Linked DNA regions of Homo sapiens. The protein of the gene in region 2 purifies or fractionates together with the protein of the main gene of each other region. This does not show direct contact. Each region holds a gene or a part of one and is shown on either strand. Other genes may lie near its edges. The genes, in order: KYAT3, SLC17A1, DLAT, RAB31 and SDHB.

What was found.
Region 1: the proteins of SLC17A1 (region 2) and KYAT3 purify together in Homo sapiens (affinity purification with mass spectrometry; one large-scale study listed by BioGRID and IntAct). This does not show direct contact.
Region 3: the proteins of SLC17A1 (region 2) and DLAT purify together in Homo sapiens (affinity purification with mass spectrometry; one large-scale study listed by BioGRID and IntAct). This does not show direct contact.
Region 4: the proteins of SLC17A1 (region 2) and RAB31 purify together in Homo sapiens (affinity purification with mass spectrometry; one large-scale study listed by BioGRID and IntAct). This does not show direct contact.
Region 5: the proteins of SLC17A1 (region 2) and SDHB purify together in Homo sapiens (affinity purification with mass spectrometry; one large-scale study listed by BioGRID and IntAct). This does not show direct contact.

Annotation. Positions count from the first base shown.
Region 1 is NC_000001.11:88,958,124-88,961,641, reverse strand, and holds part of KYAT3 (kynurenine--oxoglutarate transaminase 3), read left to right. Parts: intron 1-135; coding exon 136-261; intron 262-354; coding exon 355-475; intron 476-3,518. UniProt on the Homo sapiens protein: Catalyzes the irreversible transamination of the L-tryptophan metabolite L-kynurenine to form kynurenic acid (KA), an intermediate in the tryptophan catabolic pathway which is also a broad spectrum antagonist of the three ionotropic excitatory amino acid receptors among others.
Region 2 is NC_000006.12:25,829,237-25,833,225, forward strand, and holds the start of SLC17A1 (sodium-dependent phosphate transport protein 1), read right to left. Parts: upstream 2,817-3,989; 5' UTR 2,758-2,816; intron 1,372-2,757; 5' UTR 1,322-1,371; coding exon 1,288-1,321; intron 1-1,287. UniProt on the Homo sapiens protein: Important for the resorption of phosphate by the kidney. May be involved in actively transporting phosphate into cells via Na(+) cotransport in the renal brush border membrane. Plays a role in urate transport in the kidney.
Region 3 is NC_000011.10:112,035,398-112,038,915, forward strand, and holds part of DLAT (dihydrolipoyllysine-residue acetyltransferase component of pyruvate dehydrogenase complex, mitochondrial isoform 2 precursor), read left to right. Parts: intron 1-1,875; coding exon 1,876-2,063; intron 2,064-3,518.
Region 4 is NC_000018.10:9,707,004-9,711,110, reverse strand, and holds the start of RAB31 (ras-related protein Rab-31), read right to left. Parts: upstream 2,811-4,107; 5' UTR 2,706-2,810; coding exon 2,667-2,705; intron 2,440-2,666; exon of another isoform or gene 1,118-2,439; intron 1-1,117. UniProt on the Homo sapiens protein: The small GTPases Rab are key regulators of intracellular membrane trafficking, from the formation of transport vesicles to their fusion with membranes.
Region 5 is NC_000001.11:17,018,219-17,020,642, reverse strand, and holds the end of SDHB (succinate dehydrogenase [ubiquinone] iron-sulfur subunit, mitochondrial isoform 1 precursor), read left to right. Parts: intron 1-1,684; coding exon 1,685-1,762; 3' UTR 1,763-1,921; downstream 1,922-2,424. UniProt on the Homo sapiens protein: Iron-sulfur protein (IP) subunit of the succinate dehydrogenase complex (mitochondrial respiratory chain complex II), responsible for transferring electrons from succinate to ubiquinone (coenzyme Q).

The DNA.
Region 1 (3,518 bases), on a different chromosome or scaffold from region 2:
GCATTTGTTGGTAATTTATTCAGTTTCCTTTGCCATGACTTTCTTTGATGTTTTTTTCCTTATTAGGTTATTCGTTTGTAAGACAGTAAACATGACTTAATTGAATTAAATTATATCTTCATTCTTCATGCTTAGAAACCTGTTTATGGAAAAAGATGGTCTAGTTCTGACTGGACATTAGATCCTCAAGAACTGGAAAGTAAATTTAATTCCAAAACCAAAGCTATTATACTAAATACTCCACATAACCCACTTGGCAAGGTAAGCAAGTCTCATCTCCTTATACAGTCTTCTGACCTATCATTTTCTCACATGTTGAATAATTGGCTGTGCTCTTTCCTTTATTATGTGTAGGTGTATAACAGAGAGGAACTGCAAGTAATTGCTGACCTTTGCATCAAATATGACACACTCTGCATCAGCGATGAGGTTTATGAATGGCTTGTATATTCTGGAAATAAGCACTTAAAAATAGGTACCAACTATAACACAGAGTCACATATCTAAATGTGTTTGGGCACATATGGAAGAACTGATTGGAAAGCATCCCAGACCAACTCTAAAACAGTCTTTGTAATGGGTATCTGTCTGTATGAACACTTTAAAATAGTATTTAAATGAGCAATACTTTAGTGAATTGATGAATAGTTCAAAGGACAAAGAGTAAGAGATTTTGGATCATACTATAAAGCTATGATACCAGAAAAGTAGTTCTTTTGCCCATATATCCCTGGCTTCTTAGCAGAAATCCAGCAATTACTTGGTACATAAGACACAGGGAGCTTTCTTGTGCCTGAAAAGGTTCTAGACGGTCTATGCTGAACAACTTACCAAAATGCCAAGTCAACAGAAAGAAATTACAGGGGTAGTCAGGTATGCTGCTTGGCCCTTGCTTGAGATTCAGCCATTACTACTGGGCTATCTCATGAATGCCGTACTGTCTGCTGGGGTAGTCCAAACCATGTCAACTATAGGATTACAAACTGGGCTGCAACTTTTGGGTCTTCGCACCTCCCTTTCCTTTGCCTGGAAACACTTTTCCTCCAGGTATCCACCTGACTTCAAATATCCTTCACCTCCTTCAGGCCTTTGTCCAATGTCAGTTTTCATGACCATCACATTGAAAATAGTTAACACCTCTCCCTCCAGCATTTGCTTTGTCCTTTTTCTGTTTTGTTTTGTTTTTTCCTCTATAGTAAATATCAGAATCTATATATTTTACTTCTAAACCACAGTAATGGAGGGATTTTGTTTGTTTTAGTCTCTTCTGCATCCCCATTTTCCATAGAATCTTGTACATGGTAGAGAATTAGAAAGAAATTGTTGAATAAATGAAGATGAAAGATGAAAAGATTAAGAGAAGGATGACTAAAAAATGTGGCAGAGATAGATAAATTTTAAAATTTAGGCCAGGTACAGTGGCTCATGCCTGTAATCCCAGCACTTTGAGAGGCTAAAGTGGGTGGATTGCTAGAGTCCAGGAGTTCAAAACTGGCCTGGGCAACATGGAGAAACCCCGTCTCTACACAGAAATTCAAAAAATCAACCAGGTATGGTGGTCTGTGCCTGTAGTCGCAGCTACTTGGAGGCTGAGGTGGGAGGATCCCTTGAGCCCAGGCACCACTGGCTCACTGCAGCCTCCATCTCCTGGGCTCAAGCAATCCTCCCACCTCAGCCTCCCAAGTAGATGGGACTGCAGGCACAGACCACCATACCCGGCTAATTTTTTTTAAGAAAAATAAAAATAAGAAATGTAATGCACTTATATATTAAATTGTTGCATTGTTGCATGTGCCATAATTATTCCTATAGTATATTACAAGTTGCTATAGAGATGGGAAGAGAAAGCGACTGTTTGAGGGGAATAAAAAAGGAGTGGCCAAAAGATAGAGAATTAGCTAAACAGAGAAATAGAAACTAAACTCCTAAAACATAAACTAGCATGTACTTAGATAAGGAGGTATGAAAGATCAAGATACACTTAAGAAAGGTAAATGATTATTGAAATTTTAAAAACAAAGAAGAAGAAAGGTAAATAAGTTATTTAATTTTTTTTTTTTTTTTTTTTTGAGACAGAGTCTTGCTCTGTTGCCCAGGATGGAGTGCAGTGGTGCGATCTCAGCTCATTGCAACCTCTGCCTCCTGGATTCCAACAATTCTCCTGCCTCAGGCTCCCAAGTAGCTGGGATTACAGGTGCATGCCACCATGCCTGGCTAATTTACTTTTAGTAGAGATGGGGTTTCACCGTGTTGGCCAAGCTGGTCTCAAACTCCTGACCTCGTGATCCACCCACCTCGGCCTCCCAAAGTGCTGGGATTACAGGTGTGAGCCACCGTGCCCAGCCTTAATTTTTTTTTTTTTTTAAGAGACAGGGTCTCGCTGTGTCACCCAGGCTGGAGTGCAGTGGCTCAGAGCTCACTGTAATCTCAAACTTTTGCTTTCAAGCAATCCTTCCACCTCAGCCCCCCAAATAGCTATGACTACAAGTCTGCACCCCCTCATCTGGCTAATTTTTTAAAAATTTTTGTAGAGATAGCATCTCACTATGTTGCTCGGACTGTTCTCAATCTCCTAGACTCAAGCGATCCTCCTGCCCTGGCCTCCCAAAGGGCTGTGATTACAGGCATAAGCCATAGAACCTCGCCTCAGTTTGATTTATGAGGGTGTGTTTTAGTAACTGGCATAGATCAGGGTGGAAAACTAGGGTGATTCTAAAGGACTTTGAATATGAGATAGAGTATAAACTTTGTTGAGGAGGTCAGTGGTTCTGAAACTTACTTTAGTGGTAGATCACCATGAGATCACAGTGTTCTACATCATGAAATGGTGATATTGTGAATTCCATCCTGAAAGTAATAGCAATTTTCCTAAAAGAAATCCAACAATTAGAAGCCAATATAAAAATCACACTTCTGTTCATACTTGTCCACAACAAAAAGCTATTGAAATAAACACATTTGAGTTTTTCTGATTTTGCCATTAATATGCATTTACTAAATGCTCATCTGTTTCACTATTGGAGCATCCACTATCAGATAAGTGGTAGTATTTGCTAAAGGCTTAAGAAAATTGTGTGGTAGAAAACTTAACATTGATTTTTTAAAATTCTGCACATTAATTTGATCACCAGAGTGCCAGTGAGCTTACTTTGAGAACTATTGCAAAAGGTGTAACAAAACAGGAGAAATGGTTCCATGACTAGATTTTTTTTTTTTTTTTTTTACAAAGATGAGAGCCAGCCACAGAGGAGGGTCTTAAGCAAATCAGATAACCTAGCAGTGAAGATGGTACATCGGGGCTATTTAGAAACTATAGAGTATAGCATTTGAAGGTGGGAAGAAAACAAGCATGCTACTAAGATCTCTAGCCTGAACTACTCAGCAGTGATGAGACCTTTAACCAGGGTAAATATGGAGAGGAGCAGATTTGTATGGAAGGGCTGAGCAAAGGGAATTCCTGCTTCTCATGCTTTAAACTTGCTGAGTTTGGGTGTCTGTGGGACATAGAAGAATAGATA
Region 2 (3,989 bases):
TAGGAGACCCTCTCCTAAAATGCTTGGATGTCAAAGATTTACATGGTTCAATGGAGGATGAACACATTGCCCCCTTATCTTGTCAGTGGACTGCCAAGAAATTTTGTGCCATATGAACTTAAGAGCTGAATAGAAGGGGGTAAAAGAATACCCCTGAGAAATTTAATCATCAGCCAGCCCTTCCTTTGATTTGCTGCCTAAACTCAGTATCATAGGGAAGTGAATGGATCTAGAAAGCTATCAGAAACTTTGTAAACACACCTGCAGGAGTCTCTACATGGTAAAAGGGAAGTCATTGTCACCATGTCAGAGAAGGGCTCATTGTCTTAGTCATTTAGGGGTATGCTTTTGAGTTTTACTCATTTCTCTCCTCCACATTGCTCCAGGAAGTCCATGAATTATGTCTAAACAAGTTTTAAGTTAAAAAGAAGACCACAGGGGGAATTCTAAAGTGTTTGGGATTGAGTAATAAGAATACCGCATATCAAACTCATGGACAGAGTAAAATGTGCATCTGTAAATATATTTATCAAAAAAGAAAGAATTTAAACACTTGGAAACTGAGCAAAGGAACAAACCCAAAAAGTCTAAAAGGAATTAAATGCATAAGGGCAGAAATGAATAATATATAGAAAAAAACATATATATATAAACTTTGAATGCAGATTAAATGGACAACTTAAACAATCAAAATAATTAAGTATCAAAGTTGATACAAGAAGAAATACATAATTTAATATACAGTAACTTTTTCATAAGTTGAAAAAGTATACAATCTATCGCTCATCTCCTTTTCTGGGATTTTGTCCCCTATGACATTGACACAACGCTAAACCAATAGCAGTAATCCTTTATTGTCATTACACTACCCTGCCTAAAATAAACAGCTTCTCTCAAAAAATATTCAGTACACATTCAGCTGTTGATGTCCAAGAATGCAGGGACTCAAGAACATTCATCCTGCCTTACTTCCACTTACAGATCTATCTCTCTTTCTCTTGGAGATGGAACCAAAATAGCCCAGTTTTTTCTGATATTTTCCACTAAATGATAAACTGACAAGTGCGCAAAAATGAAAATAAAGTGTAAGCCACCAGAGTATGTAGAATCTTTTTATTTAGGGCTTTTCTGGTGGAAAACCATAGTAGGACTGGTTTCTTCTACCTTCTTTTCTGAACATTTTTAAGACCCCATATGTATATCACAAAAATATTCTTCCACATGGAATCTGTGATGTAATATTTAAGAAAAAGAACACCTGTTTAATGGAACAGAATAAAGTGCTACCTTTTTTGGGAGGCAACCGGTTATCCATTTGCATACACGGCTGAAGTTGCTTCTCTTCTTGCTGAAGGGTTTTGCCTCCACCCACTGTGAGTGCAAAACACGTTGATGTCAGCATAATGTAGAGAGGCAACTGACCAAACACTACCCAGTACTCCTCTCTGATTTAAAACCGCTTCCAAGGATAACTTGCTCCATCACAGCAGTGCCCATTCACCTCCATTATGTGCTTCCCTTGATATTTATTTTACTTTTGTGATTGTTTTGGTTGATTAAAAATATATGGAAGACCTGAAAACTACAGAGAACAAACAAATAACCCTGCCAATCCAGAATTCTAAATCCGTGATAATATTCCTCCAAAGTGAGAAATGGAAAGAATTCATTGCCAGTAGACCTGCCCTGTAAGGAACACTAAAAGAAGCCTTTCAGGCAGAAGGAGATTGCTATAGGTCAGAAACTCGGCAGTATGAAAAGAAAGGAAGAATGTCAGAAAAGGAGTAAGCAAAGGTAAAACAAATTCCTTTTTTCCCCCTGTATCTTAATAGAGCTGGAAGATACTATCTGCTTATTGATAAGATCAACTCAAGCAGAGGCTAATCATTCGTTACACGTCCACATGCCCCTGTCCGTATCTTCAGTTTCCGTGGATAGAGCAGCCACTGATGCAAAGCTTTATGGCAGGAAGCTCAGTGGAGAATCAGAATGGAGCAGTCTCCTATCAGGCAACCCCTTACCATCAGAATTCAGCACCAATATGTGCTGGTCAGGTTAGACCTCAGGATTTTACCATATCAGATTATATGATACCTAGTGCCCCAAAGATACCAAAGTCCTGAGATTGGATTTGCAAAATATTTTTGAATAAGCAATTTGTCAACCATCATTATCACACATTGGAACCTCTTCTGGGGCTGCTGTTTATTTCAATACATATATACATACACACCAAATGCACACACAAACCACCCATACGTATGCACCACATACATACATACAACATAAACACATGGTACAAACTCCCCTTATGTTCTCCACACATACACTCCAGACACATAGCAAACCAAACATATAAATACGTTACAATACTGCATCCTCAAAACGGAAGTACAAACTACAAACACCACACACATAACCACACACACACATAAATGATGGGCACAGATGCACCAGGCGTACACAGTGTGCCACACACATTACAGACACAGCACACCACAGCTATACAAGCATCACACACTGTACAACACATACTTCTCTTTCCTTGTGTCCCTGTGAACCTCACACTGATTGCTAAAAATATGTTCTTTTTTCTCTTGTGAAAAGCCTCAGAAGATAGGGCATATTCCACCCCTCCCCACATTTTCCCCTATTGCTAAGTACTTTCAATAATATCTTTGCCAGGGAATGCCCCCTTACGGCCCTCTGGGGAATCAACTGATTGCTCATTTCATTTAATGAGCCCCGTAGACTAACCTGATTCGGGACAAAAAAGTGATTTCTTCTTCCGCTGTGAAGACTTTTCTCTCAACTTTACACAATATTGACTTTCTAGGATTACCAAGTTTAGCCCCATAAATCATTCACCAAATCTTTTGACATCACTGTGTCGAAGTTAAAAGCTTAATTTTTAACTTTACTGTTACCTTTTCCTTAAAGCTTCAGGGAAGGTGTGTGGGTCAAAATCATCCAGTGGACCAGAAACTGGGAATCTGCCAGTAATTTCATGGCATAATAAGCAGACACCCTTAGTCTCTCTCCCTGCCCAGGAGGTAGAGCTTGCCTGCCATAAGTGCTCTCAAGATTTCTCTATTAAGGATGGCTCTGAGTATACAATGCTGTTCTCACAGGAATGTTGTGGCTTTCTAAATGCCCCATAAATGCCATATTAAATTTTTACTCTTAATTCCCTTCCTTCCTTTCTTCCTCCTTTTCTTCCTTTTTTCTTTCTTTCTTCCTTCTCTTTCCCTTCTTCCTTCTCCCTCCTTCCTTGCTTTCCCTCCTTCCCTCACCCTGTCTCCTCCACACTCCTCTCTAAACAGTACATCTGTTTGACATTCAGCATACTCAGAAAGAGGTACATTTTATTGAGGCATGTCCTCTGGAAGGTGTGGCTTCTCTCATGGCTCTTCCTGCAATTACTGTAGGTTCTGGTTCATCCACTTGGTTATAGCAATATCCAGAAACATTAAAAAAAAAACATAGAGAGACAGGATCTCACACTGTCACCCAGGCTGGAGTGCTATGGTGCAATTATAGCTCAGTGCAGACTTGAACTCCTGAGCTCAAGGGATCCTTCCACTTCAGCCCCAAGTAGCTGGGATTACAGGTATGCAACACTGTACCCAGCTAATTGGTAGAGACAGGGTCTTGCTGTGTTGCCCAGGTTGATATCAAACTTCCTGCCACAAGCAATCCTTGTGCCTTGGCCTCCCAAGTGTTGGAATGACAGGCGTGAGCCGTCGTGCCTGGCCCCTAATACTTTTAACTTAGAACTCTTTGAAGGTAATCTACTAATTACTTAAAAATATCCAAGCACTAAAATCAGTGATTTTGCATTATAGGTAATTTATTTCATGCTTAACAAGTTTTTTTTTAATTTTTATCATGCTTTTAAAGTGCTCATTAAATGTTTGGCACATAGCAGATGCTCTGTAAATTCAACCAGTTATTTTTTTCCTCTAAAGAAATGTTGTAAATCTTTAACC
Region 3 (3,518 bases), on a different chromosome or scaffold from region 2:
GTGTCACTATAGAGACTAGTCACTAGAGAAGTGTTACCTTGGTTGAACTTTGAAGTCTATTGTGGCCCAGGAGCCTTTTCATTTTAAACACTTCTTTTTTTTTTTTTTGGAAACAGAGTCTGGCTCTGTTGTCCAGGCTGGAGTGCGGTGGCGTGATCTCGGCCCACCACAACCTCTGCCTCCTGGGTTCAAGCGATTCTCCTGCCTGAGCCTCCTGAGTAGCTGGGACTACAGGTGCATGCCACTACGCCCGGCTAATTTTTGTATTTTTAGTAGAAATGTGGTTTCACTATGTGGGCCAGGCTGGTCTTGAACTCCTGACCTCGTGATCTGACTGCCTTGTGCCTCCCAAAGTGCTGGGATTACAGGCGTGAGCCACCACCGCACCCAGCCTTTTTTTTTTTTTTTTTTGAGATAGAGTCTTGCTTTGTCGCCCAGGCTGGAGTGCAATGGCATGATCTTGGCTCACTGCAATTTCCACCTCCCGGGTTCAAGCAATTCTCCTGCCTCAGCTGCCCAAGTAGCTGGGATTACAGGCGCCTGCCACCATGCCTGGCTAATTTTTGTATTTTTAGTGGAGATGGGGTTTCACCATGTTGGCCAGGCTGGTCTTGAACTCCTGACCTCAGGTAATCCACCTACCTTGGCCTCCCAAAGTGCTGGGATAACAGGCGTGAGCCACCGTGCCCAGCCTTAAACATATATATATATATCTCCAGACTTAAACATATATATATGTGTGTGTATATATATATATGTGTGTGTATATATGTGTGTGTGTGTGTGTGTGTGTGTGTGTGTGTGTTTTTTTTTTTTTTTTTTTTTTTTTTTTTGAGACGGAGTTTCGCTCTTGTTGCCCAGGCTGGAGTGCAATGGCACGATCTCGGCTCACCACAACCTCCACCTCCTGGGTTCAAGTGATTTTCTTGCCTCAGCCTCCCGAGTAGCTGGGATTACAGGCATGCGCCACCATGCCTGGCTAATTTTGTATTTTTAGTAGAGACGGGGTTTCTCCACGTTGGTCAGGCTGGTCTCGAACTCCCGACCTCAGGTGATCCACCCGCCTCGGTCTCCCAAAGTGCTGGGATTACAGGCATGAGCCGCCGCGCCCAGCCTAAACATATTTTTTATTGGGTATTCTCAGCTGGGAAATGGAAGGATTCATCAAAGATGTGTTCATCAAGGAGAGGCACAACAGTACAGAAAGCCAATGGCTTCTTTTAGTTTTACTTTTGCAATCCTAAATGTTTAAGTTCTTTGCAAGGAAGGCAGTAGTTGAATAAAATATAAGTTGTCAACACCATAGAAATCCCAGTAAAGCTGTAATTCTTTACATTGAAATACTTGGTATAATATCAAGTATAACCTCTTTGAAAAGTTCCAAAGATGCTTTTAGGGCTGAAATCCAACATTAGTATCTAGGTTGGTAGCTCCCTTAATTAGGCATGTATGTGGTTCTTATCTTTAGCAGCATAGCTGACACCATCTTAGAGTCCTGTGAGTCTGCATGGGGACTGTCCTTGGAGATTTTTTAATAACTTTGAGAACTAACCACTGTCTGTAATCTTTCATAGTTTTATTGAACAGATTTTTATTTGGCATTTACTTTGTACCAGGTTGTATTATTTCTAAGAACTTGAAAAATATTAATCTGTTTAAATGTATAACATCCCAGTACCAATCCAGTGAGATTGGTACTATTATTATCCCCGTATTGTAGGTAAAGAAACCAAGACACAGAAGGTTAAATAGGTTGCAAAAAAGGCTATATAGCTAGCTTGAATGAGAAAAATCACTTTACTTAAAACTGTGCTGTGAGTTTGGAGGGATAGTGGAATCTCTTAAGTCCCATAATGTTTTTTCTTTCTATTTAAGGTTTTGAAGTACAGGAAGAAGGTTATCTGGCAAAAATCCTGGTCCCTGAAGGCACAAGAGATGTCCCTCTAGGAACCCCACTCTGTATCATTGTAGAAAAAGAGGCAGATATATCAGCATTTGCTGACTATAGGCCAACCGAAGTAACAGATTTAAAACCACAAGTGCCACCACCTACCCCACCCCCGGTAGGTATGCTTCTAGAATTCAGGAAACACTTACCTTGTTCATCTCTAAATTAAGGAGTTTTGATTAGATGATATCCTAGGTTCCTTCCACCTCCAAGATTCTATGACTGAGGAGGGAGATAGTTTATTAACATTTGTGGAGACCTATAGTGTTTGTTGTACTGCACTGTTCACCTAATGGTTGATAGTTTGGGCCTTGTAGCTTTTTTCTTCCTGCTATCTAGAGTCCTGCTGAGAACAAAGCTGAGTGACATGTTCTCTTTCTGCTTTAGATACAGATACCATGCTTGTGGAAAGTAAGGCTTCATTGCCCCACCCTTTTTTTTTTTTTTTAAGAGACAAGGTCTCACCCTGTTGCTGAGGCTGGAGTGCAGTGGTGCAATCATAGCTCACTTCATTGCCCATTTATTATTAAATATACTGAATAATCTCTGTCACTTGAAATCCTCTTGTTATTGACTTAGTAGGTCAAGCATATATTTGTGATACAGTGGAACCTTGACATGACTTGTTTTGCCTAGAATTTATTATATCACCAAATACTTGATACACTATATAACTATAACCTGAACTTGTATAACTCCAACCAGAGATAACACTGACAGTGAAGCTTCAGTGATTCTCACAGATGCTAGAATCATGTGAGTTTAAACTAGGTAAACATTTCTATAAGAGAAAAGTTGATTTCTGACTACTGTACATTTGTGGGAAGCTGGCAAGTAGCATTGTTGTTGGATTTCTTTTGTTGTTGTTGTTGAGACGGAGTCTTGCTCCGTCACCCAGGCTGGCGTGCAGTGGCGTGATCTTGGCTCACTGCAGCCTATGCCTCCCGGGTTCAAGCAATTCTCCTGCCTCGACCTCCCGAGTAGCTGGGATTACAGGTGTTAGCCACCATGCCCGGCTAATTTTTTTATTTTTAGTAGAGAAGGGGTTTCACCGTGTTGGCCAGGCTGGTCACGAACTCCTGACCTCAGGTGATCCACCCACCTCGGCCTCCCAAAGTGCTGGGATTACAGGTGTGAGCCACCACACCTGGCCGTATTTCTTAAGATACTTTTCAACATGGGGCCTTACAGCATAATTTTATATTTTGAAATTAGCTGGCTGGGTGTGGTGGCTCATGCCAGTAATCCCAGCACTTTGGGAGGCTGAGGCAGGTGGATCGCTTGAGGTCAGGAGTTCAAGACCAGCCTGGCCAACATGGTGAAACCCCATCTCTACTGAAAATACAAAAAATTAGCTGGGCGTGGTGGTGCGTGCCTTTAATCCCAGCTACTTGGGAGGCTGAGGCAGGAGAATTGCTTGAACCCAGGAGGCGGAGGTTGCAGTGAGCCAAGTTTGCGCCACTGCACTCCAGCCTGGGTGACAGAGCAAGACTCTGTCTCAAATAAAAAGAAAAAAAAAAAAGAAGTTAGGATAATTAAAAATAAAAATCATGTTGGTGATGTAAAAGAA
Region 4 (4,107 bases), on a different chromosome or scaffold from region 2:
GAATCAGCCTAATTGGATGAGCAGCTAGAAACACAGCCTGCTGCACACATCTCACCCAGGAAAGAGCCAGCCAAACGAGGGGATGTGGCAAATCTTACTCAGTGTGGACAACAAGGTCATTTGGTCTTTCAAATAAAATGTCCTCTGATTTCAATAAAACTGAAACTTACAGCCACCCTCAAAAAAAAAAAAAGGAAGCCACAAATGTGGTGTGATATGACTGATGTTTCTTTTCTTTTGTTTTCTTTTCTTTGAGATAGAGTCTCACTCTGTCGCCCGGACTGGAGTGCAGTGGCGTGATTTCGGCTCACTGCAACCTCCACCTCCCAGGCTCAAGCGATTCTCCTGCCTCAGCCTCCCGAGTAGCTGGGATTACAAGCATGCGCCGCTACCGCCCAGCTAACTTTTTTTTGTATTTTTAATAGAGACGGGGTTTGACCATGTTGGCCAGGCTGGTCTTGAACTCCTGACCTCAAATGATCCCCCCGCCTCAGCCTCCCAAAGTGCTGGGATGACAGGTGTGAGCCAACGCGACCGGCCACGATTGATGTTTCAAAGCCTCCGTCTGCCCAGAAACCTCTTCTTTCTCTGCTTTGGCATGGTTCTTCCAACTCCAAGTTCAAATTCCTACACACAGAACTGGCAAAGGTAAGGCACTGTCTGCAGGAAGCCACTCAAAGAGTGTGTATCTTTCTTGGAGATAAAAGAAGTAAAGAGATTTCCTCCAGCTTCCTCCTCTCCCAGGTTTGCTAATTGGCACCCTGAACTCATAGATTAGCAGGAAATGGTAACATGTATCTTAAGAGATCATCTGGTGTAGTCCTCTGCCTAAAGGGGGAACATGTTATTATGCCCATTTCATAGATGAGGCCACTGAGTTGCTTTGCTAAAACGACACAGCTCTTTGGTGGGAAAGAACGAGAGCCTAGGTTTCCTGCCTCTTGACACAGGGTTCTTGCCACCTGATCAGTGTCCTGGTAGGAGGACATAGAGACCTGTCCCTAAACACCGAAACTGAAAATAAGGGGTCCTGTGACACGGCAGGGCTTGGACCACCTCAGTAAAAGTCAAGAGAAAAGAGTTGCAGAAAAAAAGGCAAAAATATGTCCTATTTCACCTTTCCCAAGGCCAGTCCTGACAAACACGGCACATCAAGGCTGCCTCTTCATTCCTTGGAACACGACATTCCTTCTAAGTCTCTGAAGGCCTTTCCTGAGGCTGAAATGGCCCCTCAAGAGGGAAGCATGGGATTCCTGGAATTTATGTCTGGAAATATTAGAGGGCCTGGGGAACAGGAAAACCCACTCCTGCCACACAAAAAGGTCAACAGAGAAAGACCAGACTAGATCCTGGCTGTGGCTGAGCAAGTCGGGGGAGGTGGGGATCTGTGCGGATCTGTGCCAGGGGCTAGCAGGGAGGGCAGGGCCTTCCCAGATCCTCTGGAATTCTAAGCCAACCGGACAATCGAGTTAGCGTAAGGGATGGTTTTGGAAGAGGCCGGTGATGGGAGCCGATGATGGGAGCCTGCCGGAGGTTCCACAAGAGCCTAGAGGAAGCCTAGAGACGCTGGCACAATTCAGTCCTCACCGAAATCATTTCCTCTTTCTACAGTTCTTGTACCCCCATCTTGACAGATCAGTTCGCACAAGAATGCGACCCTTTCGCTGCCCTTTTTTAGGAAATGGTTTTCATGAGACCAGCTTTGCCAATGACACGGGCGGGTACACCAGATGCTAATGGCTGCTGAAAACGCCCTTAGAACCGGCTCTTCTTTTAGAAGAAGGAATTCTGGAATGCGGAGTGGGCCCCCGAAAGGAAGCGACCCTACGTTTATCTGAATTCCCAGGGGCGGTTCGCCAGCGGCTCCCTGCGTCCTCGCCGGGTCCCCTGTCTGCAGTCCCCGGGCCGCACGGATTGACTGCTTTTTTGTTTCTGGCTGCTTTAAGGCTTCTTCGGGCGGAGAAAACCCCACTTTAGGGGAGTGATGGTGGGGAGGACTTTCCCAGGCAGCTTCTTTCACCCGCAGCAGGGAAGTTTGCAGGGCGCGCTCCGCACAGGTCACTGCCTCACCTTCCACCCCGGCCGCGCCCTCGGCTTTCACCCCCTTGGCTGGGTTCGCTTTTGGTTTTATTTTTCTGTTTTACGTGAGTAAATCAATTGCCCCCAGGAGGCAAAAGAGCACTCAGCGACTTGGCTGAGCAACTTAAACTTTCTGCCGGAAGGAAACTATCAAAAGCGGAGGAGAAAGCCCTCGGGGCCCCAGACTCGCCGCCACTGCCCCGTCCCCGCTGGGGGTCCCCGCGAGGTCGCCGCGGATCCGGGGACTCGCGGGCCGGGAGGAAAGAGCGGAGTAAGCCCGGGGCAGGCTCGGACCCGGACCCCGGCAGGGTGAGAGCGGGGGCGGACCAGAGGGGCGCACGGACGGCGGGGAGGCGGAGAACAGGCGGGGTGCGGAGAGCGAGGGGCGCGGAGAGCGAGGGGCGCACGGACTAGGGGAGCCAGGGGGACCCGGGGAACCAGGGGGCGCGCGGACGAGGGGGACGGGGGCTACGAGAGGGGTGCGGAGAGCGAGGGGATCACGGGGACTGAGCGCGCAGGGAATAGGGGAGCGAAGGGGCGCGAGAGCGCGGGCCGGGGTCCGCCGGCGGGTGGCGGCCAGGACTCACCCCGAGAAGGCACACTTTGAGCTCCCGTATCGCCATCATGTGCTCGCAGCCAGGCAGTGCCGGGGCTCAGCAGCATCCTCCGGGGCCGCCGCGCCCGCGCCCCGCCGGCGTCTCTCGCCTCTGCCCCTCGCTCGCGCCGCCCGCGGGCGGAACCGCCGCCGCTGCTATTTCTGGGCCGCCGGCCCCGCCGCGGTGGGTCACGTGGCCGCCGGCCGGCTCCTCCCGGGCGCGTCGGGTCCAGCCTCGCCGGCCCCCAGCTCCCAGGAACGCCCCCGGACGGCGTCAGCCACCCGGGACCTGCGGCGTCGCCGGCGGATTGCCTCCGCCCTCGGACCAGCCCCGCGCGGGTCGGCCTCCCCCAGCGCCCTCCGGCATCCGCCCCTCCCGGCCCCGCCTGGCCGCAGGGCCCGGGTGGGTAGGAAGGACTGGACCGGCCCTGTGGAGACCTGGCCCCACTACCAGCGGGTCCCTGAAGATGCCATTCTCATCTGGAAAGCGAATGCTCTCGGCCGAGGCCGTTTGCGTGGCAGCGCGTGGAGGTCTGCGGGGGTCCCATCCTCAAGCGACATTCTGGGTCCCACGCAGAAAAAGTCAGGCCACTGAAGGGGCCGCTGTGAGGACAGGGGTGAGGAGAAGGGGGCTAACTTTTCGGCCTGCCTTTCTCGACGTTCCTAATACCCGAGCTTCCGTTTAACATATGTGTGGCTCTTCAGCTCAGCCAAGTTCATTTTTCTGTATGCAGCTGAAAATGATTCTAGAAGCAAAACTCGCTGTCCGTGTCTGAAACGGGAAACTTGCTTTCTGGAGCAAAAGTCTTTTTCTCAGTAGAGCAAATCCTGCAACTCGTGTGGGCAGAAACCCAGTCCTCAGAGGTACAGGTAGAAACGTGGAGATCCCAGCAGACCCCTGCATCGTTCCTAACTGGGAAATGAGCAGAGTCTGTGGCCGCACACAGTCGGGGAGGCTTGGGTAACTGTGTTCTCTTCTCCATGTATGGCCTAGAGCACCTCATCCACTCGGATGACTTCATTCGTTGCTGCTACAGAAATGTCAGCCTTTTCAATGTAATCTATCTGAACAATTCACTGGCATTTCAGATGGGAAATGTTTTTTTAAAAACTGATTTTTTGAAACTTCATCTCCTATCCCAAACTCTCAGGCCTCTCTCTTAACCTTCCAATTTTAATCAATGGCATTTCCATTCTCCTAGCAGACCACCCACCGTGATCATCTGGCTTTGTTCTTACGGAAGCCAGGTTGAAGCTACCCAGTACCCAAGTAGCCCCATCCAATGGGAAATTCCAAATCAAGGCCTCCAAAGAGATAAGTCCTGGAATACAGGAGTCAAAATGGGCCCCGAAACAGACAATTCACAATTAAATTCCCCAGAAGAGCAGGAAGTTTGCCCTCGAGGTGCAGGCTTGTAGAGATTACTCAAATG
Region 5 (2,424 bases), on a different chromosome or scaffold from region 2:
TTTGAGACAGAGATAGCATCTTCAGTGGTGGGGCCTGGCTGTGTGTTTCTTCAGAAGCTCTGCGAGTGACTCTAAGGTGCATTCCTGGTCACAAACCTGTGCATGGAGGGGATGGGTGCAGCAGACAACTGAGACAGCCAAGAACAGGTTCTCTGTGCCTTGCCCTCCCTTCTGTAAAACAGGGCTGGAAGTTGGGACTGAGACATAGACATAGGCCGATCATGAAACTGGAAGGGACTTGAAAACCATCAAGTTTAATCCCCTTATACAGATGGGGAAATTGAGCCCCAGGTGGGGAGGGGAGTGACTCGCCCCAGATCACTGTCAGGTCAGTGGGAAGGTAGGACTAGAGTTAGGCCGTCTGCCTCCCCATCCAGTGCTCTTTCTTCCTGCATGGATTGGGTATGTACCAACCTTCTAAGTCTAAACACCCTTACTGACCCTGTGGGGACCGGAAATACACAGGTAGATCCAGATTCAGAAGGATATACAGTGAAAATTCTCCCTCCCACTCCACCCAGCCACCTCCCTAGAAGTCAGATTCTTGTGTGAACTTCAGAGGTGTTTTATGCTGCACACAAATGCATATGTGTCCTCTTCTGTCTTTCTTATATCACATTTATCTGTATTTTTTCACCCACTATATTTTGGAGATTATCCCATGTTGGTATATGAAGAGTGTCTTTTTGACCAGCCTGGACAACATAGTGAGATCCCATCTCTACAAACAAAATTTTTTTTAATTAGCCAGGTGTGGTGGCACGCACCTGTAGTTTCAGTTACTTGAGAGGCTGAGGCCGGAGGATCACTTGAGCCAGGTGTTCCAGGCCACAGTGAACTATGATCACACTTCAGCCTGGATGACAGAGCAAGACCCTGTCAAAAAAATATATATTTTTTCTTTCTCTTCTTCTCTCAAGATCTCTTTTCTTTCTTTCCTTTTCTTCTTTCTTTCCACAACACTTTTTTAGGGGGGTAGACTTATCCTTCTAAAATGAGGGGAACCTTCACTAACGTCAGATGAGTACTTGTCTCATTTTACCAAGTACTTGCTTGGTAAAAGCAAGTACTTGGTAAAGTACTTCCTACTTTCTACTTCAATGAAGCTGGCATTCAGTGGGTTTAATTATTGTGCCTCCTGCAAAGCAGATGTTAACAGCTGTAGGGGCAAACTGCAGCTAATACCAATGGTATTGGCCAGTTGAAATCATCATGGTTTTACAAAGGGTTAATAGAGAGGGTAGTTTCTTCCACATACTTTTGAGAGCTGGTATATGCTGATTTCTGCTGCTGCCTATTTAATAATGATGATGTAAAAGATTTAGAGATGTCTGGCTGATTTTGACATTGGCCTGTAGTCCTAGAAGAGACACTACCCTGAGTGTCTTTGAGCAGTCAGAGAGTGCACCTCTGCCCTGGGCCTGTTTACCTGTTAGAGTGAGCCACACAAGAAGGAATTCAACGTGGCAGAGCTCTTGCCAGAGGGAGCTGACCATCTTCAAATGTTAAAAAAGGTAGACAGAAGAGAGCCCTTAGCCCAACCCCTATGGTTTTGAGGGACTTGATTTGCATTCACCTTGCTTGGACACTGAACCAGCTGAGGAAGGAGTTTCACCCAAGATTGTGGGTTTTCCCTTTCAGTTTCAGTTATCATTTGTTATTGATTCTTTTCTCTTTTTTCAAGGGTCTGAATCCAGGGAAAGCTATTGCAGAGATCAAGAAAATGATGGCAACCTATAAGGAGAAGAAAGCTTCAGTTTAACTGTTTCCATGCTAAACATGATTTATAACCAGCTCAGAGCTGAACATAATTTATATCTAATTTGAGTTCCTTTAAAGATCTTGGTTTTCCATGAATACAGCATGTATAATAAAAATTTTAAGAAATAAATGTTATTCTACTTTATTAACAAAAAAAAAAGAACCTGTTCCTTTACTTGCCGCAGGGGAATGTGAAGGTGCCAGGAGTCCTTGTCCTTGGAGAGATGGACAGGGCTTCAGAGCTGAGCGGGGGTGGGGGTACCCTAGCTGGAAGGAGGTGATGAGCCGTGGAACTGACATCAGCAGGGCCTGCAGCTTGTTCCCAGCTTTGCCACTCACCAGCTAGACAACCTTGGACAAGTTCCTTCACCTCTTTGCTGCTCCATTCGCCCATCTGTAAGATGGGATCCATAATTGTGCCTACTTCATTCATCTGGTATGAGAATGCCTGGCACTTATTCTGAACACTCAGTTAGTGTTAGTGTTCTGTATCTTCCCAGTTTCTATAGTTTTCAGTACCAGAATTACTGAAAACCAAATCTTGGTAAGTCTTTGGATACGTCGGTGAGGCCAGGTTTGAGATTCCTCCAGCACAGAGCAATGACCCTGGTCAGTTGTGAATCCAGTTAGTTCCACAAATGACCTCGTGGGGCCTCTCACTGC